7 linked regions of the Homo sapiens genome follow. The protein of the gene in region 5 purifies or fractionates together with the protein of the main gene of each other region. This does not show direct contact. Each region holds a gene or a part of one and is shown on either strand. Other genes may lie near its edges. The genes, in order: CDK11B, TOX4, CCNT1, TMEM106B, NSRP1, EPB41L2 and DDX42.

Region 1 (4,027 bases), on a different chromosome or scaffold from region 5:
AAGAGCTTGGGTACACAAAGCAAGCAGCATTTCATTCCGGGATGAAAAAAATTCCGATACCCATCGCCCTTCTTGGGCCCTTGTCAGTTTCTTGCCACATCTTTCATTTTCCCATTTCAGGCCCAGTAAATGCGGATGTTTATCTTCCATTGTTTGTTTCCTGAGATTCAGATGTCTAAAGCATTTTTCTGTGACTTTTCAAGTCAAGAGGAAAACCTGACATATGGAAAGGGAATTAATTGCTCGTTTTATCCTCTTCTCCTGCAATGCTCTGAATCCATGGGTTTGGAGTGGGGCCCTGGGAGTTGGGGGAAGCACCATACCCAGTGAGTCTGCACTTTGAGGACCCACTGCCAGTGTCAGCTTCAAAATCACATTGTAAAAGGCCGGGCGCGGTGGCTCACGCCTGTAATCCCAGCACTTTAGGAGGACGAAGCGGGCGGATCACTTGAGGTCAGGAGTTCGAGACCAGCCTGGCCAATATGGCGAAACCTCGTCTCTACCAAAAATATAAAAATTAGCCGGGCGTGGTGGCGCGGGCCTGTGGTTCCAGCTACTCGGGAGGCTGAGGCAGGAAAATTCCTTGAACCCGGGAGGAGGCTGCAGTGAGCCAAGACCACGCCACTGCACTCCAACCTGGGCGGCAGAGCAAGGCTCCGACTCAAAAGTAAATACATGAATAAATAAAATAAAATCACATCGTAAGAGCTCTCCCTGCCCTGTTTCTGAGTAAGGTTCAGAGTTAAATTCCGAGATCGGCCTTTACAAGACACACAGACCTGAGGCGCCTCACGAGGTAACCAGCAGGTAAATGGAGCGCGCTCCACCCACCCGCCACTAGGGGTCCCAGCGGTCAAGGGGGTGGAATGCGGGCGTCCATCGCGAAGGCATTCTGCTCGCAAGCCTTGGCACAGGCGCGGGCTTCGCTACCGGAAAAGTCCCGGTAGGATTCCGGAAGCCGGCCACGCGTTCCGCGCAGGCGCAAACTGCTCCAAAAGTGGGCGTCGCTCCTCCGGAGTCCCGATTCCTGCGTCACAGCCCGCGCCGAAGTCGGAAGTGCGCTCACCGGGCTGTTTCTTCTGGCGTCCTGGACCTGAGCAAGCGCTGTTTTATGCGTTATCATCCCGCGCAGACACAGGAAGTGCCGCACAGAGCGAGCCCCTGTCGTTGTCTCGAGTTCTGGGCCGGAGGTCGGCTATTATATCATCATTACGCGCCAATACAGGAAGTGACGATACTTTTGGCGCGCGCCGGTTGCTGTTTCTTCTCTGGCTCCGGGACCGGCGGCGGCGGCGGCGGCAGCGGCGGCGGCGTAGGGGTGAGTTCCGACTGGGCGGACCAGGTGTGGGAGCGCGAGGAGAACTGCGCACCGAGGTCTTTCTTCCGAGCAGGCCTCGGAGCGGGGCGGACCCGGGCCCGGGGGCGAGCGACACCCTCGCTTCCGCGGACAGTCTCATCCCGCACGGAACTTTGGGTGGTGGAGGCGGCGGGTCCAAACGCTGTCTGGAGCCAACGTCTGCCAGGCTGAACCTCAAGTGTGCGGGACTGAACCCGAGGAAATAGCCCAGTGCCCGGGTCAGGTGGCCTTGTTCGCGAGCACATCTCGGAGCATCTCCCCGGTCTCAAGGTGCAGCTGTCCAGTGTGCTAGTGGCTTCACGTAGTCCAAGCGGTCTTTCTAGCAGATTCTGACAGTAAAAGCAGTGTTTGATGAGTGGCAGGTCCTGAGTTAAGAGCCTTTAAACGGATGATCTTTAATCCGCGATCGATACTATCACGTAGGTGTTGTTATTCTGGTTGTACGGAAGACTAAACTGAGGTGAATTACGTTACCCAAGACCATACAAGAATGACAGAAACGAGACTTGATTTCAAGCGGTCATTTTTCAGAACCCATCACTCTTTTTTGTCGCCCATGCTGCAGCGCAGTGGCTGTTCACAAGCGCACTTCAGCCTGGAACTCCTGGGCTCAATCGGTCTCCCATCTCAGCTTGCAGAGTATATGGGACTACAGGCGCTCGCCACCTTGCCTGGCTTACAACTTATCATTCTTGTTTTTTTTTCTTTTTTTTTTGAGACGGGGTCTTGCTGGAGTGCAGTGACGCGACCTCGGCTCACCGGAACCTCCGCCTTTCGGATTCAAGCGATTCTGCTGCCTCGGCCTCCCGAGTAGCTGGGATTACAGGCACCCGCCACCACGCCCAGCTAAGTTTTGTATTTTTAGTGGAGACAGGGTTTTCGCCGTGTTGGCCAGGCTGGTCTTGACCTCCTGACCTTGTGATCCACCCGCCTCAGCCTAGAGCTTACTTTTTTTTTTTTTTTTTTTTTTTTAACCAAGTCTTACTTTGTTATCTAGGCTGGAGTGCAGTGGCGCAGTCTTGGCTCATTGCAGCCTTGACCTCTCTGATTCAAGTGATCCTCCTGCCTCTAGCAGCCTCCTTCCTGTAGCTAGGAATACAGGCACGCGCCACCACACTGGGCTAACTTTTGTATTTTTTGTAGAGACGAGGTTTTGCCATGTTGCCCGGGCTGGTGTTGAACTCCGGAACTCCAGCGATCTGCTCGCCTCGGCCTCCCAAAGTGCTAGGGTTACCGTCTTGAGCCACTGCGCCGGGCACAACTTCTTATTCTTAATGAGGATTTATTCTGAATCCCTCAAAAGTGACTAGGTTCAAGTGTTCAGCACCATAGCTTGCTGTGTCCTGATGTAGGCTGAATTATTTTTCTTTTTGCAGTGTTTTAACTCAAATGGGTGATGAAAAGGACTCTTGGAAAGTGAAAACTTTAGATGAAATTCTTCAGGAAAAGAAACGAAGGAAGGAACAAGAGGAGAAAGCAGAGATAAAACGCTTAAAAAATGTAAGCCATATTTTTTAAGTAAGTGGTTTTCTTAAAGGAGATTTAATTTCTTTGCCCTCATTTTTCCATTAGAACAACGCTTCTTCGGTGAAGTTCTTTTGTACTTCCAAATGTCGCAGGTGAGCCCAAAATCTATTCTAAAAATTAACAAAAACATTCAAATATTCAGTTGACATTAAAGGCAGATTTAACACACTAAAGCTGTGTCTAGATTGAGCATACATGGAGAATAAAATACGTTGAATGTTAAGTCATTAGCAAAACTGGACTAATTTTTCTCGGTTCATTAGTATGTTCATAATACTATCTCTAAGTATTTTTAATATAGTGGGAACTTGCCTTGAAATTAATATAAATATTTTACATCTTTCTTGGTTTGCATGGTAATGTACTCAGGAAACCTTTTTAGTAATTTGGTAAGAGGCATTGGCAAAGTACCTCTTTTGCTAAGATCTTTAGCAGCATCATTTGGGATGTTAGTGAGTACAGGCATACCTTGTTGTATTGCACTTCACTTTATTATGCTTCACAGATATTGAAATTTTTCCAAATTAAAGGTTTGTAGCAACTCTGCATTGAGCATTTTTCCAATAGCATGTGCTCACTTTGTTAGCTTTTTTTTTGTTTTTGAGACGGAGTCTCGCACTGTCGCCCAGGGCCGGGTTCACGCCATTCTCCTGCCTCAGCCTCCCAAGTAGCTGGGACTACAGGGGCCCACCAACATGCCAAGCTAATTTTTTGTATTTTTTAGTAGAGATGGGGTCTCACGGTGTCAGCCAGGATGATCTTAATCTCCTGACCTCATGATCCACCCACCTCGGCCTCCCAAAGTGCTGGGATTACAACAGGCATGAGCCTCCGCGCCCGGCCTTTTTTGTTTGTTTTTGAGACAGTCTTGCTCCATTGCCCAGGCTGGAGTGCAGTGGCATGATCTCAGCTAACTGCCACCTCTGCCTCCTGTGTTCAAGCAGTTCTCCTGTCTCAGCCTCCTGAGTACCTGGGACTACAGGCACCTGCCAGCACGCTCGGCTAATTTTTATATTTTTAGTAGAGACGAGCTTTCACCTTGTTGGTCAGGCTGGTCTGGAACTCCTGACCTCAGGTGATTCACCTGCCTCACCCAGCCTCCCAAAGTGCTGGGATTACAGGCGTGAGCCACCATGCCTGACC
Region 2 (3,500 bases), on a different chromosome or scaffold from region 5:
ATGTCCAAAGTTTAGGATCCTTGGGTAACAACTCTGAATAATAACTGTTTAGGCTATATCCTGTCCAGTTGAACTAGTGACCTCTGCTTAGTTAAGGAGTGGTCTGGGGCAGAAGACTGTCTTAATGTATCTCACTAAAAACACTATGGGGCACACGGTGGCTCACGCCTGTAATCCCTGCACTCTGGGAGGCCGAAGCGGGCGAATCACGAGGTCAGGAGTTCAAGACCAGCCCAATGAACATGGTGAAACTCTGTCTCTAATAAAAATACAAAAAATTAGCTGGGTGTAGTGGTGGGCGCCTGTAATCCCAGCTACTCGGGAGGCTGAGGCAGGAGAATCACTTGAACTAGGAGGTGGAGATTGCAGTGAGCCAAGATTACACCACTGCACTCCAGCCCAGGCAACAGAGCGAGACTCCGTCTCAAGAAAAACAAAACAAAACAAAACAAAACAGGGCGGGTGCAGTGGCTCACACCTGTAATCCCAGCACTTTGGGAGGCCGAGGCAGGCAGATCACCTGAGATCAGGAGTTCGAGACCAGCCTGACCAACATGGAGAAACCGTCTCTACTAAAAATACAAAATTAGCCGGACATGGTGGCACATGCCTGTAATCCCAGCCACTCGGGAGGCTGAGGCAGGAGAATCTCTTGAACCCAGGAGGTAGAGGTTGCAGTGAGCCGAGATCGCACCATTGCACTCCAGCCTGGGCAATGAGTGAAACTCCATCTCAAAAACAAACAAACAAAAAAAAAACAGTATGAGTACCTTGGGTAAGAGAAGTCAACTGCTGCAAGGAACTCCCATCTGCAGGATGTTTTGTGCTCCTGGTTGCTGGGCATTAAATGCTAGTAGCAACCCCCACTGTTATTGGGTCAACCAAAAACATTTTTATACATTTCCACTAGACTAAAGACTTAAAAACAAAGGCTCACCTCAGGAACTACATCTGTGATCATCTCACAGATAGTCTCAGGAGAAGGTGCCTCCACTGTATGGGCCTCAGGGCTGTTGTTCATAGGCCGCTCAGGACTACTTTCCACAGTTGGTGGGACTAAGGTAGTCTGCATTTTCAAAGTGGGTAGAGGCACACTCTTGATCTGCAGAGGAGGAGGCTGTTGCTGTAAATTGATTCGAACTTTCTGAGGTGGAGGCTGTTGCATGGCCTGGAGTGGAGGAGGCTGCTGCAGAATGGTAACTTGCTGCTGAGTCGGGGGCTGTGGCATCTGTTGTAATGGAGGGGGCTGTAGTCGGGGTGGAGGCAGTTGCATAGAAGCAGCAGCAGCAGCAGCTGCTGCTGCCTGCAACACTGACCGAGTGACAATCTGGGCTTGTTGACTGGGCTGGATAGTAGCTGTACTGGTTTGGCCTAGTTGGAGCCCCCGGGAGGTCACCACTGTGGCTGGGATAACAGTAACCATCCCTCCTTGAGACATAGTAATAGAAGAGGGCAACATTTGTTTGGTAATAATCAACTTGGTGATATTGGGCTGACCCCCAGCTCCAGAAGATGCCTGGTTTGCCACATAGGATGAAAGGGTGGAGTTAACAACAATGGATGGGGACAGGGCAGGGGGCTCTATTGAAGCTGGTGCTGGAGATGCTGGGTCAACAGTAGCCATAGGAGGTGGAGAAGGAGTTTGTGATGGTGGTGCTGGATCCAATTCCACTGTTTCCACAGTGGCCTAAAAGAAGACATAAATCAATCTATCAATTAATCAATCACTTGGTGGTATTTACTTCTTAAAACTGCTAACAAACACTTCCAAAAAACTTCTTACTGGTTTAAATATTCATTCTATCCTATCCCTCTTACCTGACACTCCTGGTTGTCTTTGTAAGCAGCCAGTGCCTTCAGATACTCTTTCTTGGCAGCCTCAGTTTTCCTCTTATATACCTGCAAAAAAGAGACTTTAAAAAAAAAAACAAAACTCCCCATACTCTTAGGAAAGACTGATAGTTCTGTATTATTTATCAATGAATGACAATTCATCTTAGTCTAATCACTGACAACCTCTATCAGTGAATTCAATTCTGAAAGCTAACAGTCAAGACAACCTCCATGGCAGACTCACTCCACTGAGCATACCTCTGAAAGACAACCAATCGACAGGAGTCTGGCAAGAATAGCTACATTTATTTTATTTTGCTACATTTATTTTATTTTTTTTAAATTTTTTTTGAGACAGAGTCGTGCTCTCTCGCCCAGGCTCGAGTGCAGTGGCGTGATCTTGGCTCATTGCAAGCTCTGCCTCCCAGGTTCATGCCATTCTCCTGCTTCAGCCTCCTGAGTAGCTGGGACTATAGGCACCCGCCACCACGCCCGGCTAATTTTTTGTATTTTTAGTAGAGATGGGGTTTCGCTGTGTTAGCCAGGATGGTCTCGATCTCCTGACCTTGTGATCCGCCTGCCTCTGCCTCCCAAAGTGCTGGGATTACAGGCGTGAGCCACCACGCCTGGCCGAGAATAGCTACATTTAAGGCAAACATCAACCCATGCTCACTTCTGTAACAAAAATAAACCCTAATCTGCCAGGTGCGGTGGCTCACGCCTGTAATCCCAGCACTTTGGGAGGCCAAGGTGGCCAGATCACGAGGTCAGGAGATTGAGACCATCCTGGCTAACCTGGTGAAACCCGATCTCTACTAAAAAAAACAAAAACAAAACTAGCCCGGCGTGGTGATGGGCGCCTATAGTCCAGCTACTCAGGAGGCTGAGGCAGGAGAATGGCGTGAACCTGGGAGATAGAGCTTGCAGTCAACCAAGATTGTGCTACTGCACTCCAGCCTGGGCGACACAGTGAGACTCTGTCTCAAAAAAATAAATAAATAAATACAAAATAAACCCTAATCCAAAAACTGTGTCTTAGCCTGGGACTGTGTCTAACCAGTATATTTTCCCTTATGGAATGTGGTAAATTGTTTGCAAAGATGGCCACAACAACTCCTCCCATATGACCTTTCTCCCTTCAAGAGCTGAAGCCTATTTCCCCCTCCTTTGAATCTGGGCTAGCTCTAAAAAGTTTTTAAACTCTAAATCCAAAAAAGAAAAAGAAAGAAAAAAAATAGGCCAGGTGCGGTGGCTCACACCTGTAATCCCAGCACGTTGGGAGGACAAGGCAGGCGGATCACCTGAGGTCAGGAGTTTGGCACCAGCCTGACCAACACGGTGAAACCCTGTCTCTACTAAAAATACAACATTAGCTGGGTGTGGCGGCACATGCCGGTAATCCCAGCTACTTGGGAGGCTGAGGCAGGAGAATCACTTGAACCCAGGAGGTGGAAGTTGCAGTAAGCTGAGATTGCACCACTGCACTGCAGCCTGGGTAACAGGAGCGAAATTCCATCTCAAAAACAAACAAACAAGTAATTCTAAATCCAAACTTGGTAGTGGATTTGAGAGTTAGCCACAGCATGCAGCTTATCAAGTAATAGCCTAATTTTATAAATGGGGGAAAAAATGAGACTTAGAAAAGTTAAATATCTAAAAATTGAACA
Region 3 (3,500 bases), on a different chromosome or scaffold from region 5:
CTCTTGACCTTGTGATCCGCCCGCCTTGGCCTCCCAAAGTGCTGGGATTACAGGTGTGAGCCACTGCACCCGGCCACCCTGAGCTTCTTTTCCTGCAACTAGATGGTCCCATCTACGGGTGATGGGAGACAGTGACAGATCATCAGGCATTAGATTCTCATAAAGAGCAGGTGATCATTTCACCTCAGCCTCCCAAGTTGCTAGGACTATAGCTGCGTGCCACCACTCCCAGTTAATTTTTATTTTTTTGTAGAGATAGGGGTCTTACCATGTTACCCAGGCTGGTCTTGAACTCTTGGCCTTCAAAGAATCCTCCCATACTGGCCTCCCAAAGTGTTAGAATTCCAGGTGTGAGCAACCATGCCTAGCTACATTTTTTTTTTCTTTTTTTGAGATGGAGTCTCGCTCTGTCACCCAGGCCGGAGTGCCGTGGTGCGATCTCAGCTCACTGCAACCTCCACCTCCCAGGTTCAAGAAATTCTCTGCCTCAGCCTCCTGAATAGCTGGGATTACTACCTGCATTCACTCTATGGAACAAGCCAAGGTTCACGCCCACCATCACACCCAGCTAATTTTTTAGTATTTTTAATAGAGACAGGGTTTCACCATATTGGCCAGGCTGATCTTGAACTCCTGACCTCGTGATACACCTGCTTTGGCCTCCCTAAGTGCTGGGATTACTGGCGTGAGCCACCGCACCCGGCCCATTCTTTATTTTTTAACTGTCTAAAAAATCCAGTGTATTTTATGGTTATAGCACGTTTCAATTTAGCTACATTTCAAGTGATGAATGGCTACATGTGGCTAGTGGCTATAGCTTTGGCTGGCACAAATCTGAGTGAATTTTCTTATTACCTTTTCCTTTGAACTCTTCTGTTACTTTTTAGAAACCTAACATGGCCCCAAAGGGGAAGTTCTAATAGGAGCCAAATGTTTGGTATTAAATGCTTACAGTACTGTAGGAAGGTTCTGCAAATGTATTTTGGTGATGTTGAAAAATATATACTTTATGGCCAGGCGCGGTGGCTCATGCCTGTAATCCTAGCAATTTGGGAGGCTGAGGCGGGTGGATCACCTGAGGTCAGGGGTTCAAGACCAGCTTTGCCAATATGGTGAAACCCCGTCTCTACTAAATATACAAAAACTAGCCGGGCGTGGTGGTGGGCTCCTGTAATCCCACCTACTCGGGAGGCTGAGGCAGGAGAATCGCTTGAACCTGGGAGGCAGAGGTTGCAGTGAGGCGAGGTCGCGCCACTGCACTCCAGCCTGAGCAGCAGAGCGAGACTCCCTCTCAAAAAAAAAGGCCGGGTGCGGTGGCTCACGCCTGTAATCCCAGCACTTTGGGAGGCCGAGGTGGGCGGATCATCTGAGGTTGGGGGTTTGAGACCAGCCTGACCAACATGGAGAAACCTCGTCTCTACTAAAAATACAAAATTAGCTGGGTGTGGTGGTGCATGCCTGTAATCCCAGCTACTCGGGAGGCTGAGGCAGGAGAATTGTTTGAACCGGGAGGCAGAGGTTGTGGTGAGCCGAGATTGTGCCATTGCACTCCAGCCTGGGCAACAAGAGCGAAACTCCAACTCAAAAAAAAAAGAAAAAAGAAAAGCAAAAAATACATACTTTTAATTTTCTTTTCTCTAAATCACATGAACCATAAAACTTAAATATTAACCTGAAAATGAACCAAATATATGGTGCTTTTTCTGTAGCCATATATAAACTGTTACCTCTCAGCATACTACTTATTTATTTATTTTTTAAAGAAAATGTGTACTGAATGGGCATAAGGGATAAAGATTGTATTTCACAAAAAAATTAGCCGGGCGTGGTGTTGCGCGCCTGGAATCTTAGCTACTTGGGAGGCTGAGGCAGGGGAATTGCTTGAACCAGGGAGGTGGAGGTTGCAGTGAGTCGAGATCACACCACTGCACTCCAGCCTGGGTGACAGAGGGAGACTCTGTCTAAAAAAAAAAAAAAAAAAAAAAAAAAAGATTGTATTTCAGTTCTTAACTCTACCTCCTAACTCCACTCATGCCTTTTATTGTTTTGGTTTCCCTGGAAGGGATTGTTAGAATTGTTTATACTTTATATATTGTGCCTTTGTAGGGAATAATTTCTGTCTTCTCACTTTTAGGCTTATTTGCAACAAGTTCAAGATCTGGTCATTTTAGAAAGCATAATTTTGCAGACTTTAGGTAAGTTTATTTTCCTTTGAAACATTTTTTTAAATTATGCAATAAAATGATTTGATTCTAAAAATTTGCTATATAGGAAGAATATTTCTTGGGAAAGTTTTTGTAGTGTCCCTCTGTTTCCAGATGATAGAGGTTGTAGACCTGAGTTTAGCTTTGACCTGTTCCATAGAGTGAATGCAGGTAGTACAGCTGACCTTTGAAACAGCAGCCAGTGGGTTATTATTTTTTTCATTCTAGGGTTATTTGCTTTTTAAGTTTTGGTGATTTTTACCCCCAAAAATTATAAAAACTATCTAAAGAATGTTTTTCCTTCCGTGGATTGTTATGGCCTGTAACAGCATTTGTTTTTAAAATTGGTAACTAGTGTTTAGAACAGCAGAGTGAAAGTGGGGGAACTTAAGCTTTAGTGGTTGCATGGGCAACTCTGATGATATTGTGTTATTATCTGTTATTTTCATCACACAGGCTGCCTTTAGAAGTTTAGAAAATATGAAAATACAGATTTTTTTTTTCCTGGTTCTTTTGGGCTATCATTTTTCTCTTCTAGGTAGGGTAAGATTTCATGAGTTGTACGTCAAAGTTATTGGCGTAGACACAATTTTTTTTGTACATATATATATATGATGAGTTCTTCAAAGTTTATCTCTCAATTTATTCTAGTTAACTTTTTTCTTTTTCTTTTTTTTTTTTTTTTGAGACGGAGTCTTGCTTTGTCGCCCAGGCTGGAGTGCAGTGGCACAATCTTGGCTCATTGCAACCTCCGCCTCCTGGGTGCACGCCATTCTCCTGCCTCAGCCTCCAGAGTAGCTGGGACTACAGGCGCCCGCCACCACGCCCAGCTAAATTTTTGTATTTTTAGTAGAGATAGGGTTTCACCGTGTTAGCCAGGATGGTCTTGATCTCCTGACCTTGTGATCCGCTCGCCTCGGCCTCCCAAAGTGCTGGGATTACAGGCTTGATCCACCGCGCCCAGCCTCTAGTTAACTTTTTTCTTAAAATATCTTCAAATTATATTTCATGGGACAATGATGTTTTTCTGGTGGAATAAATTTCTATTAATATTTTAGTGTGGAAACCAGTAAGGTGTAATTTACAATCAGTTATCCTTTTACAATAATTTGTAAAATGTAAACTTCTTAATAGTTTTTTAATCCATTACTTTTTCTTTTAAGGCTTTGAACTAACAATTGATCACCCACATACTCATGTAGTAAAGTGCACTCAACTTGTTCGAGGTAAGGAATCCCAGCTTATGAAGACTATCTCAAGCTGTTTTCCCATTTAGAGGTTGTGGTTTGTGGTGGA
Region 4 (3,500 bases), on a different chromosome or scaffold from region 5:
AAGCCCATTGTTGAGACCTGCTTGGAAAAAAAAATTCCTTTCAAAGTATTACTACTCATTGACAATGTACCTGGTCACCCAACAGCTCTGATGATGTACAAATAGATTAATGTTGTTTTCATGCCTCTTAACACAACGTGCATTCTGCAGCCATGGATCAGGGAGTAAATTTGACTTTTGAATCTTACTATATAAGAAATACATTTTGTAAGACCATAGCTGTCATAGGTAGTGATTCCTCTGATGGATCTGGGCAAAGTAAATTGAAACCTTCCAGAAAGGATTTGCCATTCTAGATGCCATTAACAACATTTGTGATTCAGGGGAAGAGGTCTAAATATGAACATTAACAGGAGTTTGAAAGAAATTGATTTCAACTCTCATGGATAATTTTGAGGGGTTCATGACTTCAGTGAAGGAAGTCACAGCAGATGTGGAAATAGCAAGAGAACTAAAATTTAGCAATGGAGTCTGTAGATGTGACTGAATTGCTACAACTTGATGCCAAAACTTGAACAGATGAGGAATTGTTTCTTATGAATGAGCTAAGAAAGTGGTTTCTTGAGTTGGAATCTACTCCTGGTGAAGATGCTGAGACCACTGCTGAAATGACAATAAAGAATTTAGAAAATTATTTAAACATGGTCGATAAAGCAGAGGCAGGGTTTGAGAGGACTGGCTCCAATTTTGAAAAAAGACCTACCATTGGTAAAATGCTATCAAAACAGCATCACATGCTAGAGACATCTTTCATGAAAGGACAAGGCAATAGATGTGATAAACTTCATTGTTGTCTTAAGAAATTGCCATAGCCACCCCAACTTTAGTAACCACTACATGGATCTATCAGCAAACAACATCCAGACAAGATCCTGTGCCGGCAAAAGGAGTATAAACTTCTGAACATTCAGATGATCGTTAACATTTTTTAGCAATAGTGTGTGTGTGTGTGTGTGTGTGTGTGTGTGTGTGTGTGTATGTATATATTTTATATGGGGTCTCGCCATGTTGACCAATTTGGTCTTGAACTTCTGGGCTCAGGTGATCCTCCCACCTTGGCCTCCGAAAGTGCTGGGATTACAGGTGTGAGCCACTGCACACAGCCTATTTTTTATTAAGGCATATATATTGTGTTTTTCGACATAATGCTATTGCACACTTAATAGACTACAGTATGATGTAAACATAACTTTCATATGCACTGGGAAACCAAAAAAAGGTGTGTAACTTGCTTGATTATATCACTTTATCGATATGGTGTGGAACCAAACCTGCAATATATCCAAGGTATGTCTATAATATCAAGGGAAATTTCACGTATGAGATAAATTCCAGAGACATTACAGAGGTAGAATGGATAAAGCTTGAGTACTGATTGGAAGTTAAGTGAATGAAAAAAAGAAATCAAAGATAATGCTAAAGTAGAGTTCAGGTAAGGACTATAAGGATGAAAAGGATTAAAGGTAAAAGATTTTGAATATCTACACTGATTTGTTTATGTTAAGGAAATTTCAAAAGCATAGCCAAAATACATAAGTGATACAAATTTTATTTTTCATGCTGAAATTTTTTTACAAATTTTATTGCGTCATACACAACTACAAGAGTAACAGTTATAACTGAATTAAAAAAATAGCATTTTGGGGGCATTTCTATTTGTTTGCTATTATAAGCATGTTTTGTTACATGAACAGCAATAATAATTACAATTACAGAACTGCTCAATTCATAAATGTAGTAAGTGTGTCATGATGGAGGCTACTACATAATATAAACAGTAAATGCCCAAACATATTTTCATATTCTATATTATTTATTATATAACTAGAATCAAGGATTAGAATCTAGGTAATACCATCATTCAAATATCTGACCAAGTCAATCAAGTGAGCAAGCACGTCAAATCATTTTCCAAAATCTGTTATAGTTTAGTTCTAAAGAAAAATATAAGATGAAACACATAAGGCATGGCTTGTTAATAATTTATGCCTAAAACCATTATATAATAAAAATCTGCATATTTTGCAACTTGGCATTTGTTTCATCTGACACAATAATAAAAAAGATGAATAGTACTATCAGCACTTGGAATTACCCAACTACAGCTGATATAGTACCTCCCAGACTTCTAGTTTCTAAAATTCTGGGTGAAGTGGGACAATTTGAACTATAACAGTCTACATGGTAGTAATATTACCTTTTGGCCACTGGCTCAATACTAATCCTTTTTTGTTTTTTAATATATAAAATATGCTGAAATTGTATCTCTTAAAACACATTTCAATTAATGTAATTAAAAACAGAAGGGTAACAGCTTCCTTTTAGAAGACTTAAGACTTAGTTATGAAAAATCTGCCATATTTGTTAAATTAATCCAACATTTTTAGGGTCAAATATAGATCATACTACATTTTTCAATTTAGAGTCTGTGATAAATACTTGTACAAATAACTATAAACACAACCAAATTACTTTTAAAAATGGAAATTACCATTTTTATCTCTTTAGTAACTTTAATCACTTGATTTTATCCAATTTAAGGACAAACTTCAAAAATCCACTGTGAAATTTGTATTCCGACTAAGCACAAAAATACACAAATGTTAGTTCTAGTCAGAAATTTAAGCTGACAAGTGAAAATCTCACTTTGAAAGTAGATCTGGGACACAGAAGTTAAATTTTTGATCTGAACACATCATAAATATATTGTTGTAATGTAAAAATAATTTTTTAAAAGAAATGTTTAACAGTCTTTTTACTCCACCATCTCAAACATGTAAAATTTTTCCCTAAAATAGTCTAAGATAAACATCTCATCTGAAACCCGATTTTATAAAAAAGAGAGAATAAAACTAATTACTCTTATATGTACTTGAGCCAAGTAGTTGCTGCTTCCAGATGTGAGCTAAAAATCGTGACCTAATGACATTATGGTAAGCAACCTTTTGCTTATAACCCTAGTAACTTGTAATTCAATTCCTATTGCTTATCAAAGACCCATATGTATTTGTAAATTTAAAAATTTACATCTTTTAAAAAGTACCTAACAAACTATTTTCTTAAATAAAATATAATTATTATATAAAGAACTGTTTATTCTAAGAACTTTAAAAGACAAACAAAATGGGGTGCGGGAGAGTTGGGCACATGCCCTCCAAGAAAATATCTAGAATTATATCACAATAATAAGGCTAAGAACCATGAAGGATTTATTAGGCTGAAGTTTCAAGTCTCCTAATATGTTACTTTAATTGTGTTTTTGATGGTCTCCTACCTATTTGAACATTGCGGTGTCCTTTCCAAACTGTAAATCAGACAATCTGAAGTGTGTTATATTTTATTGTCATTTTCTTAGAGAAAATAATTGCTTCACTGGCCTAACAAGGCACAGAAAAACTGTACACAAATAAAATATAGCCATTTAAATGTTCCATACTTAAGATGGTTATTCAGTAATTTCAAACAATTTATGTGGTATCTAATATTTTCATACTATTCTT
Region 5 (4,160 bases):
CCCAGCTACTTGGGAGGCTGAGGCAGGAGAATGGCGTGAACACAGGAGGCGGAGGTTGCAGTGAGCTGAGATTGCGCCACTGCACTCCAGCTTGGGTGACAGTGCAAGACTCTGTCTCAAAAAATAATAATAATAAATAAATAATAAAATTAAGTAAATAAAATTTAAAGTTTTGATCACAGCGGCCACATTTCATATACTCAGTTGCCATATTTGGCTGGTGGTTGCCATACTGGGGACAGCTCACATATGAACATTACCATTTCTTGAGGCATTTCTATTAATGCTGGTCTAGAAGGTAAAGGATTAGAGGATTTTTGAATAAAGTTATAAGGTATTATAGGAATGGTGAGATGATTATGCCATAATTATGTAGCTGAAGGTAAAAGAGTCTGTCCTAAGCAAAAAAAAAAAAATTTTTTTTAACAGGAATGTTCTGGGTAGATCTGAGTCTGTGTTGCTAAGGAAGGGAAGAGGTAGGAGAATAGAATTAAGGTGAGGAGAGGAAGTTTATGCCCCACTCCCTCCCTACGCTGCTAGGCTTTGATTATAAAATTGGTGAGAAGTATGAACCTAAGAAAATGTATTTGAAGATTCAGGTTTTGAATGGAAATTATATTACGTTATATCTTTGTATTAGAGTTTCATCTGGAATATTTATTAGGCTGCCATGAAACTCTGTAATGTCGTTGACATAGTTGTACTTCTTAGAGTCTAATAATCGAATTCCTAACTGTTAGTGGGTCCTTTAGCCAAGATAGTTCTGCCAGTAATTCCTGGAGAACCAAAGTTGTTGCACCATTAGTGTGATTAGTAAGTGATTAGTAAGAATCACTGAGTGGTTCTTATTTACATTATACTCATACTATAAAGTTAACTGTACTTGCCAGCTGGAACAATGAAGGTAATATAATTTTAGTATTGTTGATTCTAATGGACAAATTAATATATTTCCATTTTGTTGTGATAGGTGCCAAGGAGTGAATCAGGATACACTCATGAGAGAGAGTAAATATTTAGGATTATATTTGCCACTATTTTGCTGTGCAAAGATTATCTTCATGTATTTCTAGGACTATTTTTATAATTTTTTAAAAAGAAAAAGGCCAAGCATGGTGGCTCACACCTGTAATCCCCGCACTTTGGGAGGCCAGGGTGGTTGGATCACCTGAGGTCAAGAGTTTGAGACCAGCTTGGCCAACATGGCAAAACCCTGTCTCTACTAAAAATACAAAAATTAGCTGGGCATGGTGGTGCAGGCCTGTAATCCCAACTACTCGGGAAGCTAAGGTGAGAGGATCACTTGAGCCTGGGAGGCAGAGGTTGCAGTGAACCGAGATTGTGCCACTGCACTCCAGCCTGGGTAACAGAATGTCTCAAAATAAATAAATAAGAAAGGAAACAACAAATCCAACAGTCACAACTTAAGCTTCATGTTGTGAAAATAGAACTTAGATTCAGAACATTTATTACTTTTCCCAATTATTCTTTGTCTTAGGCTTACCAAAAAATGAAGACCTGTACAGACCCTTGCCTGTAGGTTCTAGTAGTATAGTAGACAAGGGCTAATTTTCTCTTTTCACTTCTACAAATATTGAAAATATTCTGAATGGTATGAATTTGAAAATACTAGTTTGCATAGACATCAGGACCTTTTTGCATTTGGATAATCAGACAGTATATATCACTATAGGTGTATTGATTTGAGTATTGATAAAAATTATATGAACCCTTCATTTGCTTATTACAACTGATAATGTGGCATTTTTTTCTGCCCTTTTTTGTTTTTTGTTTCTAAGATCTGGTATAAAGGAAGAAAAATCAAGGGGCTTCTCCAATGAAGTAAGTTCAAAAAACAGAATACCACAAGAGAAATGCATTCTTCAAACTGATGTGAAAGTAGAGGAAAACCCAGATGCAGACAGTGACTTCGATGCTAAGAGCAGTGCGGATGATGAAATAGAAGAAACTAGAGTGAACTGCAGAAGGGAAAAGGTCATAGAGACCCCTGAGAATGACTTCAAGCACCACAGGAGTCAAAACCACTCTCGGTCACCTAGTGAAGAAAGAGGGCACAGTACCAGGCACCACACGAAAGGATCACGAACGTCGAGAGGACATGAGAAAAGGGAAGATCAGCACCAGCAGAAGCAATCCAGAGACCAAGAGAACCATTACACTGACCGTGATTACCGGAAAGAAAGGGATTCTCATAGGCACAGAGAGGCCAGTCATAGAGATTCCCATTGGAAGAGGCATGAACAGGAAGATAAACCAAGGGCGAGGGACCAAAGAGAAAGAAGTGACAGAGTATGGAAAAGGGAGAAAGATAGGGAGAAATATTCCCAAAGAGAACAAGAAAGAGATAGACAACAAAATGATCAGAACCGACCCAGTGAGAAAGGAGAGAAGGAAGAGAAAAGCAAAGCAAAGGAAGAGCATATGAAAGTAAGGAAGGAAAGATATGAAAATAATGATAAATACAGAGATAGAGAAAAACGAGAGGTAGGTGTTCAGTCTTCAGAAAGAAATCAAGACAGAAAGGAAAGCAGCCCAAATTCTAGGGCAAAGGATAAATTTCTTGACCAAGAAAGATCCAACAAAATGAGAAACATGGCAAAGGACAAAGAAAGAAACCAAGAGAAACCCTCTAATTCTGAATCATCACTGGGAGCAAAACACAGACTCACAGAGGAAGGGCAAGAGAAGGGTAAAGAACAAGAGAGACCACCTGAGGCAGTGAGCAAGTTTGCAAAGCGGAACAATGAAGAAACTGTAATGTCAGCTAGAGACAGGTACTTGGCCAGGCAGATGGCGCGGGTTAATGCAAAGACCTATATTGAGAAAGAAGATGATTGATGGCTACCCCAAGAGAAAGATTTAAGGAAGCACAGAAAACTGTAATTCCTGGAACCTGCTGCGTAAAACCATAAAGGAGTGTGTTACCAGTAGTTTGGAGGGCATTTTTAAATTTATTTTCAAAATTTTAAGTTAAAAGTCAGTCTTACAGCTTGGATGTTTGGATGTGGATGTTTGGCTGAATTTATATATAGTGTGTACTCATCAATACCACATTCTTTGTTGTATTCAAGAACCGTTAAGAGTGTGCTAATTCCCTGTAGGTACATAATGAGGAAAATTTGCTCCACTACAACCATTAAAAAATAATTTTGGCCAGATACGGTAGCTCGTGCCTGTAATACCAACATTTTGGGAGGCCAAGGCAGAAGGATATTGAGGCTAGGCATTCAAGACCAGCCTAGGCAGGATAATAAGACCTTGTCTCTATTTAAAAAACAAAAAGCCTAGCATGGTAGTCCATGCCTGTAGTCCCAGCTGTTCGAGAGGCTGAGGCAAGAAGATCACTTGAGCCTAGGAATTTGATGTTACAGTGAGGTATGATCATGCCACTGCACTCCAACCTGGGCAACAGAATGAGACCCTGTCTCTAAAAAATTTTTTTTAAATAAATAATTTAACTCTTCTAATAATGTTTTGTTGCAGGAAATGTATTTCAGATAAAATATGGATTTGAAAAACAGAAAATATACTTTATGTTCTGAAATTTGTATTTAAGTATAAAATGTGAATCATCTTGTCTAAATAGCTTACAGCATAGTTGGCTTAAATGAAAATAAAATGATATGCTTATACATTTTATTTATGCATTTATTTTAAAATAATTTTACTCATGTCACAATTCATCTTTTCGCTTTTAGTAGAAATTAATTTGTAATTCTGAAACCTTGACAAGTTAGTAAATTGGTTATATATGTAAATCACTTTTAGTTAAAGGTGAAGCTGTGGAGACATTAGCCTAAATGAAATTAGCTAAAGATCTAGGTGGCCTGTTTCTAAACATGTCTTGTTTCACCTACTCTGAAAAAGATAGTGCAGTTTATTACAAGTTCCACTTGTGTATAAAAATAAAACTAGTATCTTTCTTCTGAGTCTTTGAAACTCAGGAGAAATAATTATACACTGTAAATATTTTATTTATGGGGAAAGATGAATGCTGTGGAGAAAATAGTTCTCTACTAGGTCTTCCCATTAAGAAAATGCTGTTCATATATCTCACAATACTCTACCTAAAGAGCACACTTTCTTATTTTTAGAAGGATAAACTTGGTTTAATAAGAATGCTGACTAGATGAAATATA
Region 6 (3,500 bases), on a different chromosome or scaffold from region 5:
TGGTTTTGACTGATGGATTCTGAGCATACAAATTTATTTGCTGATTTTGTTTATTGCATTTAGTGCAATAATTTTAAAAAGGATTTGCTTTGGTTTCAGATACGGAAGATGGATGAGATTTTTGTTGAATGTTTGATTTGATGACACCCTGCGTAAGTAGTCATACACGTAGACATGGCGCATGGCTAGACAAAGGCTGCGAGCGGGGCTGGAGGAGGGAGCTCCTGGGGGAACTGCCTCACAGCGTTATGGGCTCCGTACAAGCTGCGAGTGCCTGGGGCACACTGGATGAGGCTGAGGAGATCATCTGGCTGTGACCTTCTAAACAGTCAATAAGCAAATACCACACGGTCCTGGGAAAGCGCACATCCAACATTTACAACTCTGATAAATGTACACTCTCAGTCACAAGTGACAGCATTTTACCATAACAAACCAGGCTTATCACTATGCTTAATAACTGGATATGCTTTAAAATGAGCACCAACAGTACCTTGCATTTATGCGGCATTTTTAAATTTACAAATTACTTTTGCTGTTTTTTAAATTGTTGTTGAAACATGGGTTGGGAAGGGCACAAGGGACACCTTTAAGACCTTTAGACACTTATCCAAAGTAAAAAACAGAAGAAGGAAATAGTGGAAAATAAGGCTGGAGTTAGAAAGCTGATGACTTCAGCATGCATCAGAATCACTGGAAGCTTCTTAAGACAATTCTAAGGTTTCAGGAGGACTGGAGTGGGGCCACGCTATTTATACTTCTAACAATGCCCCGGGTGAAGCTGATGCTGCTGATCCAGGGATGACTGGTTACCCAGTGCTAAACATTTAGAGAATTATGCAGGGAGGAACAGGGGAATGCCCCAAATCAGTATACTAGCGATCTTAAATGAGGGAAATTCTACATTATTTGAACAACTTGCTGAAAATTCTGAATGATGGCCTTCATTCATTCGCTTTAGTCAGGAGGGCTGGTTTAATAAAAGTAGAAGCACAAGTTTGTTTTTATAAATTATAAATTTTATTAAATTATTTATGGTTTTGTAGCTATCTTACATATAGCTATTCGTAACATATTTTTACCCCCTTGTACTTCACAAAATTGCAATTTGGCTTGAATGCATTTGTCAATGGAGCCTAATTTCTTGGATACTTTAAACCAAGGCATTTTGATTCCGCTGGCACTGTCTGTATCTTACTTGGAAGTGTGTACAGGAAGAGAGAAACAATTCAGAAAAGATTCTGTCTGTAATGTACCATCCTCTCCATATGATCCCCTGCATTGCTTTACCTTGGTGATGTGTGTGGTTGTCGTTGTTGACACGGACTCAGATGTGATGGTTTGTGCGGTCAGTAACGTGCCCGAATCACCACCAGCCCCGCCATCAATCTTTGGATAGTTGGGGGAAAAATACAAAGTAATGCTTAACTTCTGTTATGTTGTCAGAGAAGATCCCCGCCCCATCGAATATGCATCTTTTAAAATCCATGTGGTTTGCGTGTTTGCAGTAGTAATTACCATCCAGGAGAGCGGCTGGTATTTGAAACCGAGTAGAGGCAAAAGGCTAGGTGCACATGGAGAAGCAAACTCAACTGTGTGAGTGGAGAAAAGAGAGGAGAATGGACATAGTAGGTGGGACTGAAAGCTACAAGGGAATTATGACAGAATTTGTCTGAAGGACTTTTGCACAAGCTAGAAAATGAAACTAGAGAGCCAGGCAGAGAAGTTTCCACAGTGACCAGAAGCGCTGAGTTTGTTGTTTTTTAAGCACAGGTGGGTAAAAATAGATAAACATTTTATCAAATTACCAAGCAACAGAACCTGACCAGGACAAACTGAATCTGCATGATTTGGTTATCTGCTTACCTCTAGCGATTGTTTTCATCAACTACATTGTTCCTGTAATAGTTTGCATGTTGTGAGCATATATACGGGCACATATATTTCAATACTGCACATACGCATGTGCTCCTACATATATATAAATCCCATACATATGTTAAAATAGATTTTAACTTGTTTGCTTTGATATTGAAAGATGCAGAAGATTCTAGAGTTTCCAAGGGGAATCAATGAAGCAAATTAATAGCCTAACAGTTTATGTTAAGATCACGAAACATATTTGCCCTCTGTTTCCTGACACTGACACGAGGAAATAACTGGACGGTCCAGAGCCTTTCTGACTGTAAGAGGAAATCTCTTTCAAACTTGGGTCATGCACCTGTATGTCTTCATTCTGGCAACTTATCACAGCACAGACACATCACTAATGCTCCCCCGCCAAGCTGTTCATAAGAAACCTATTTGTGCTTATGTGGGATCAAGGCACACACAAGGATGCCATATCCAAAATAATTTTCAGATGTGTTTCACACATGCATGCATTAAACCTTTTAAAAAATATTCTGAGAGGTCAATAACCTGACATCCTCCACCATGATACAATTCTACCACAGAAGGTTCATCTTCTAAGTGGAGAAAATATTTATTTTATATTCTATTTTGAAATCATGAATGCTTTATCTTTTTTTGTTATTCTTAAGGTTAAACATCTTAATGCTTATTCCAAATCTTTACAGAACCAATGTGTGAAAACCTAAAATCAAACACACAAATCTGATAATTATTTAGACACATGGTATCACCATTCACATATGAATGACTACATAGGTCTTTAGAAAATAATTCCACACGAAGGAGAAGCACAGGTGTGTGTGCCTGTGTGTGTTTGTGTGTGTGTGTGTGTGTATGTGTGTTATTACAAGCAAGAATGAGTTGATTGGGTCAATCTTCACGGAGTTAGAGAGGGAAAGAAGCCTAAATCACATCCACAATTAGATCGGATTATTATTAATCGATGAATTATATCAGATAAACTTTGCAAGACAATTTGTTTCCTAAGTGTACACAAACATTCTTAGATATGTCAACTCAGAAATGGCTTTCAATCATATGAACAAGATTGATACTGTCTGTCCTAAATAATCATATGTACAGTTCCCCTATAATTACTGGGTTACCAATTTAATTGCAGCTCTCTGTCTCAATCTAAGAGAACATAGCAAATTATGTTGTTGAAGTACACTTACAAAGTGCAGATACAAAAAGCTACATCAAAGCCAGAAACATGTAAACTAAGAGAAGAAAGAATGAAAACATAGATACACTAAGGGAAAAAAGAGCTCGAACAGTCCAAGTCTAGAGCTTTTGTACCTGTGGAGACTCATATGTGATGGTTTTGGTCTCAGTTTGGACAATGGGGACTTCCTTGGTGGAGATTTCTGTCCTTTGTGAGGCATCAGAAATTGTTACCATCTCTGTTTTTACCACTGGTGGCTGAGGTGGAAAAGGAAGGGAAAAATAAATTCTAGAGGTAATAAAGTAAAAGTGTTTAATGGAACCTTCACAAATAATAGTAAGAAACATATCCAAACACACACTCATGCACAAAAGAAAAGAGTAAAAGCAAACAACCTAAAACAAACAAAAGAAATAAAAGA
Region 7 (3,500 bases), about 34 Mb from region 5:
ATACCTTTATGAATAAAATCGTGGTTTTAAAGTATGTTCTAGGTTTCGATTTTTTATGACATCACATTCTGTTTTTCAGAACTTCGTTTGGGTTGTGACAGGTATTTGTTAGTGTCACAGTTTGTTAATATATTATTCACAACTTTGTAGATCCATGCAGAATGTAAGCGGTTTGGAAAAGCATATAATCTTCGATCAGTGGCCGTATATGGAGGAGGGAGTATGTGGGAGCAGGCCAAGGCCCTTCAGGAGGGGGCAGAGATTGTTGTGTGTACCCCAGTAAGTATGCCTTGTGTTTAAATGGCTTCTCAGCCTCCCTCGGTATGGAAAACATGATTAGTTTTGCAGAGAATTTCCCCTAAAGTGTGGTAAAAGCAGGGTTGAAAATATACTGATGAACGGCAGGCTGTGGTTTTAATTTTGATTGGTGGCTAAATTAGCAGTTCAGTGAGAGTCTCTGTGACATATAGGCTAGTAGCTACAAATTCCCCTCTATGTCAAATAGTTTTTCTTATACTCTCCCACAAAATGATTGCCAAGTTCATCAAGAATCAGAAAGATACATATGGTCAGAATAGCCTAGAAGAGTGTAGTTTAAACATTGAAACCTGTCATTATGCTTTAAATCAGGTCACTTTAGAATGCCTCAAAAACTGCTTCTGGCCACTTTCCCACAGAATTTAAATCACAGTGTAAATGAAGATGCCGATTGAGTTTTCAAAATTTCTGTTCCTTTGAGCTAAGTAGTGCATAAGGTATGTGGCTGTTGGACCAGTATCTATTACAGTCTGAGACTAGAGAATTAGCACTTTTGCCAGGAGTGCAACTGCTTAGAAAGTCCCTGTGAATGCCTTTAATTATACTTACTGTTCATTTTGTTGATCTTATAGGGTCGACTGATAGATCATGTGAAAAAGAAAGCTACCAATCTTCAAAGAGTCTCTTACCTTGTGTTTGATGAAGCAGATCGAATGTTTGACATGGGATTTGGTATGCCTTGAATACCAGTTTCTTCTGTCCCCATCCTCATGATACTAGTTTTTTTTCCATGTCTTTCTAGACTGTTTTTTCAGCATGAGAGAAGCTAAAAATACTCCTGGATGGGGTTAGACTATAGAAATATAGCTAAGATGAACATTTTTAGGAGTTTTCTCTGGAAAAGTATGTTAGGTTTTATTGGGTTGAGGAAATTTCAAAGTGCCTTTGTATATAAGGGGAATATTTTCTCTGTCTTCATTTTTATCCATATGCCTTTGATCATAGAGGTTAAGGTCTGTGTTCTTGGGTAGATGAATGTCAGATCATTCGAGGCCCTTTGCTTTCCTATCCTCGTAGCTGTCTTTACTGATTGGAACACTGCTAGACCTAGCCCAGTTGGATGGAGGGAAAATTTTTCACTTTTATGCTGAATGATATGTTTAGGAGCTTCTTTTTTCTTGAGACAGAGTTTTGCTTTTGTTGCCCAGGCTGCAGTGCAGCGGTGCGATCTCACTGCAACTTCCTCCTTCCAGTTTCAAGCGATTCTTCTGCCTCAGCCTCCTGAGTAGTTGGGGTGATAGGCACCTACCCCACAGCCTGGCTATTTTTTTTTTTTTTTTTTTTTGGTATTTTTAGTAGAGATAGCTGTGTTGACCAGGCTGCGAACTCCTGACCTCAAGTGATCCGCCTGCTTCGGCCTCCGAAAGTGCTAGGATTACAGGCATGAGCCACTGTGCCTGGCCTGGGGTTTCTAATTTTCTTAATTCTTACAACTTCTTATGAAGACTTTTACTAATATGGCTTTTTCCAGGCTTCCCAAACTGTATTTCAGGTTATAATAATTTTATTGTTCTGTTTCTTGCAGAGTACCAAGTTCGATCCATAGCAAGTCATGTTCGTCCTGACAGGCAGAGTATGTATGAAGCACCTTTGTTAAACCAAATTTGTACTAAAAAGGGCACTTATTTATTTTATAAGCACTCAGAGTTATGGAAGTAAAAATGATCTTGTGTCTGTTGGTGAGAACCATAATAAGGGAGGTAATGAGTTTATCTGAGCTGGACAGGATCTTAGCACTAGATATAACTTGTTCCTTTTTATAGATGATAAAACCAAGGATCAGAAATTAAATAAACTGCCCTAAATTATACAGTTTTATCAGTGGGTAGAAGCAGTGTACAGTACAGATCTGCTGATTTGAAATCAAGAGTCTTTTTCTGAACCATACTGACAACTTGTCTTAACTAAAAATGTAATAAAAATAGAATAAGAGCAAATCTTTCCCTAGTGAATCAGTTTCTAAACTAAATTTAAAGTTCAGGTGAGCTTATGTAAAAAAACTGAATAATCCTGAATGCCAAAGAAGCTTAATGGGTATGCATAAAGATATCATATTGTTTCTCTAACAGAATTTATCTTACCTTTTAGCTCTCTTATTTAGTGCAACTTTTCGGAAGAAGATTGAAAAGTTGGCCAGAGACATCCTGATCGACCCTATTCGAGTGGTGCAGGGAGATATTGGAGAGGTAACCCTAAGCAGGGCTGGATGGGACCTTAATGGGTTTATTTCTCATATTATGGAACACAGAATTAATTTCTCACTATTGAGATAAAAAAAAAAGATGTTATGTTTATAGATGCAACATGCTTGAGATTGGGTATTTTGCAAGTTGTGGGGATAGACGTAACAAGACTGGCAAAATGTTGGGAATCATTGAAGCTAGGTGATGGGTATGAGTTGATTTTGTTCATTTTGTGTTTTTTTTGTTTTATTGAATGTCTCAAAACTTACAATTGTTTTAAAAAGGCTTCAAAGAGACAAAAAGATGTGCCTGGAAGCATCAGCGTATTAGGTTGGAACTGACGTTTTAATTATTGTGGTAGGGGCCTACGCAGGAGGGAAAGGGTGACCTGGAAGGCCTGGAAAAAATCAGGTTTCATTTCTTACCTGTACATATGCGCTATGTGAAAAATTACTCTGAATTGGGACTTGGAATTCAGTTATGGCTGCTTAGAGAATCCTTCAGTTGCTTGCCATGGTTATTGTTAAGGAAAGCTCTACAAAGTAGTGGGGCATACAAATTAGGTATGTACACCAGGTGGAGAGCAAGGTGATTGGAAAGGAGAGGTGAGTTTTGAGCTGCACTTGACTTGCTGAAGGCCCAAGGAGAACTGGGATTGTTCAAGGTCTTCTCGATGCAGGTAGAAATATAATGCCTAGTCCTTGTTCAGGTGCCCTGTGGCTCCAATGTCACAATCATCTGTTTCATTTCTTCCTTCTCAGGCAAATGAAGATGTGACACAGATTGTGGAGATTCTCCATTCTGGACCTAGTAAATGGAACTGGCTTACCCGGCGTCTGGTAGAATTTACCTCTTCAGGGAGTGTCCTCCTCTTTGTTACTAAAAAAGCCAATGCTGAAGAGCTAGCGAATAACCTTAAACAGGAGGGTCATAATCTTGGGCTGCTCCATGGGGATATGGATCAGAGTGAGAGAAACAAGGTCATTTCAGACTTTAAGA

What was found.
Region 1: the proteins of NSRP1 (region 5) and CDK11B purify together in Homo sapiens (affinity purification with mass spectrometry, with the first as the bait; one large-scale study listed by BioGRID). This does not show direct contact.
Region 2: the proteins of NSRP1 (region 5) and TOX4 purify together in Homo sapiens (affinity purification with mass spectrometry, with the first as the bait; one large-scale study listed by BioGRID). This does not show direct contact.
Region 3: the proteins of NSRP1 (region 5) and CCNT1 purify together in Homo sapiens (affinity purification with mass spectrometry; one large-scale study listed by BioGRID and IntAct). This does not show direct contact.
Region 4: the proteins of NSRP1 (region 5) and TMEM106B fractionate together in Homo sapiens (co-fractionation; one large-scale study listed by BioGRID). This does not show direct contact.
Region 6: the proteins of NSRP1 (region 5) and EPB41L2 purify together in Homo sapiens (affinity purification with mass spectrometry, with the first as the bait; one large-scale study listed by BioGRID). This does not show direct contact.
Region 7: the proteins of NSRP1 (region 5) and DDX42 purify together in Homo sapiens (affinity purification with mass spectrometry, with the first as the bait; one large-scale study listed by BioGRID). This does not show direct contact.

Annotation. Positions count from the first base shown.
Region 1 is NC_000001.11:1,656,205-1,660,231, reverse strand, and holds the start of CDK11B (cyclin-dependent kinase 11B), read left to right. Parts: upstream 1-1,227; 5' UTR 1,228-1,318; exon of another isoform or gene 1,319-1,776; intron 1,777-2,733; 5' UTR 2,734-2,746; coding exon 2,747-2,857; intron 2,858-2,929; exon of another isoform or gene 2,930-2,967; coding exon of another isoform or gene 2,968-2,976; intron 2,977-4,027. UniProt on the Homo sapiens protein: Plays multiple roles in cell cycle progression, cytokinesis and apoptosis. Involved in pre-mRNA splicing in a kinase activity-dependent manner. Isoform 7 may act as a negative regulator of normal cell cycle progression.
Region 2 is NC_000014.9:21,490,695-21,494,194, reverse strand, and holds part of TOX4 (TOX high mobility group box family member 4), read right to left. Parts: intron 1,900-3,500; coding exon 1,819-1,899; intron 1,688-1,818; coding exon 938-1,687; intron 1-937. UniProt on the Homo sapiens protein: Transcription factor that modulates cell fate reprogramming from the somatic state to the pluripotent and neuronal fate. In liver, controls the expression of hormone-regulated gluconeogenic genes such as G6PC1 and PCK1.
Region 3 is NC_000012.12:48,699,708-48,703,207, reverse strand, and holds part of CCNT1 (cyclin-T1), read left to right. Parts: intron 1-2,134; coding exon 2,135-2,195; intron 2,196-3,367; coding exon 3,368-3,430; intron 3,431-3,500. UniProt on the Homo sapiens protein: Regulatory subunit of the cyclin-dependent kinase pair (CDK9/cyclin-T1) complex, also called positive transcription elongation factor B (P-TEFb), which facilitates the transition from abortive to productive elongation by phosphorylating the CTD (C-terminal domain) of the large subunit of RNA polymerase II (RNA Pol II).
Region 4 is NC_000007.14:12,235,294-12,238,793, reverse strand, and holds part of TMEM106B (transmembrane protein 106B), read right to left. Parts: 3' UTR 1-3,500. UniProt on the Homo sapiens protein: In neurons, involved in the transport of late endosomes/lysosomes. May be involved in dendrite morphogenesis and maintenance by regulating lysosomal trafficking.
Region 5 is NC_000017.11:30,182,816-30,186,975, forward strand, and holds the end of NSRP1 (nuclear speckle splicing regulatory protein 1), read left to right. Parts: intron 1-1,799; coding exon 1,800-2,859; 3' UTR 2,860-3,660; downstream 3,661-4,160. UniProt on the Homo sapiens protein: RNA-binding protein that mediates pre-mRNA alternative splicing regulation.
Region 6 is NC_000006.12:130,864,246-130,867,745, forward strand, and holds part of EPB41L2 (band 4.1-like protein 2), read right to left. Parts: intron 3,337-3,500; coding exon 3,214-3,336; intron 1,390-3,213; coding exon 1,291-1,389; intron 1-1,290. UniProt on the Homo sapiens protein: Required for dynein-dynactin complex and NUMA1 recruitment at the mitotic cell cortex during anaphase.
Region 7 is NC_000017.11:63,808,670-63,812,169, forward strand, and holds part of DDX42 (ATP-dependent RNA helicase DDX42), read left to right. Parts: intron 1-150; coding exon 151-279; intron 280-890; coding exon 891-990; intron 991-1,843; coding exon 1,844-1,891; intron 1,892-2,406; coding exon 2,407-2,504; intron 2,505-3,262; coding exon 3,263-3,500. UniProt on the Homo sapiens protein: ATP-dependent RNA helicase that binds to partially double-stranded RNAs (dsRNAs) in order to unwind RNA secondary structures. Unwinding is promoted in the presence of single-strand binding proteins.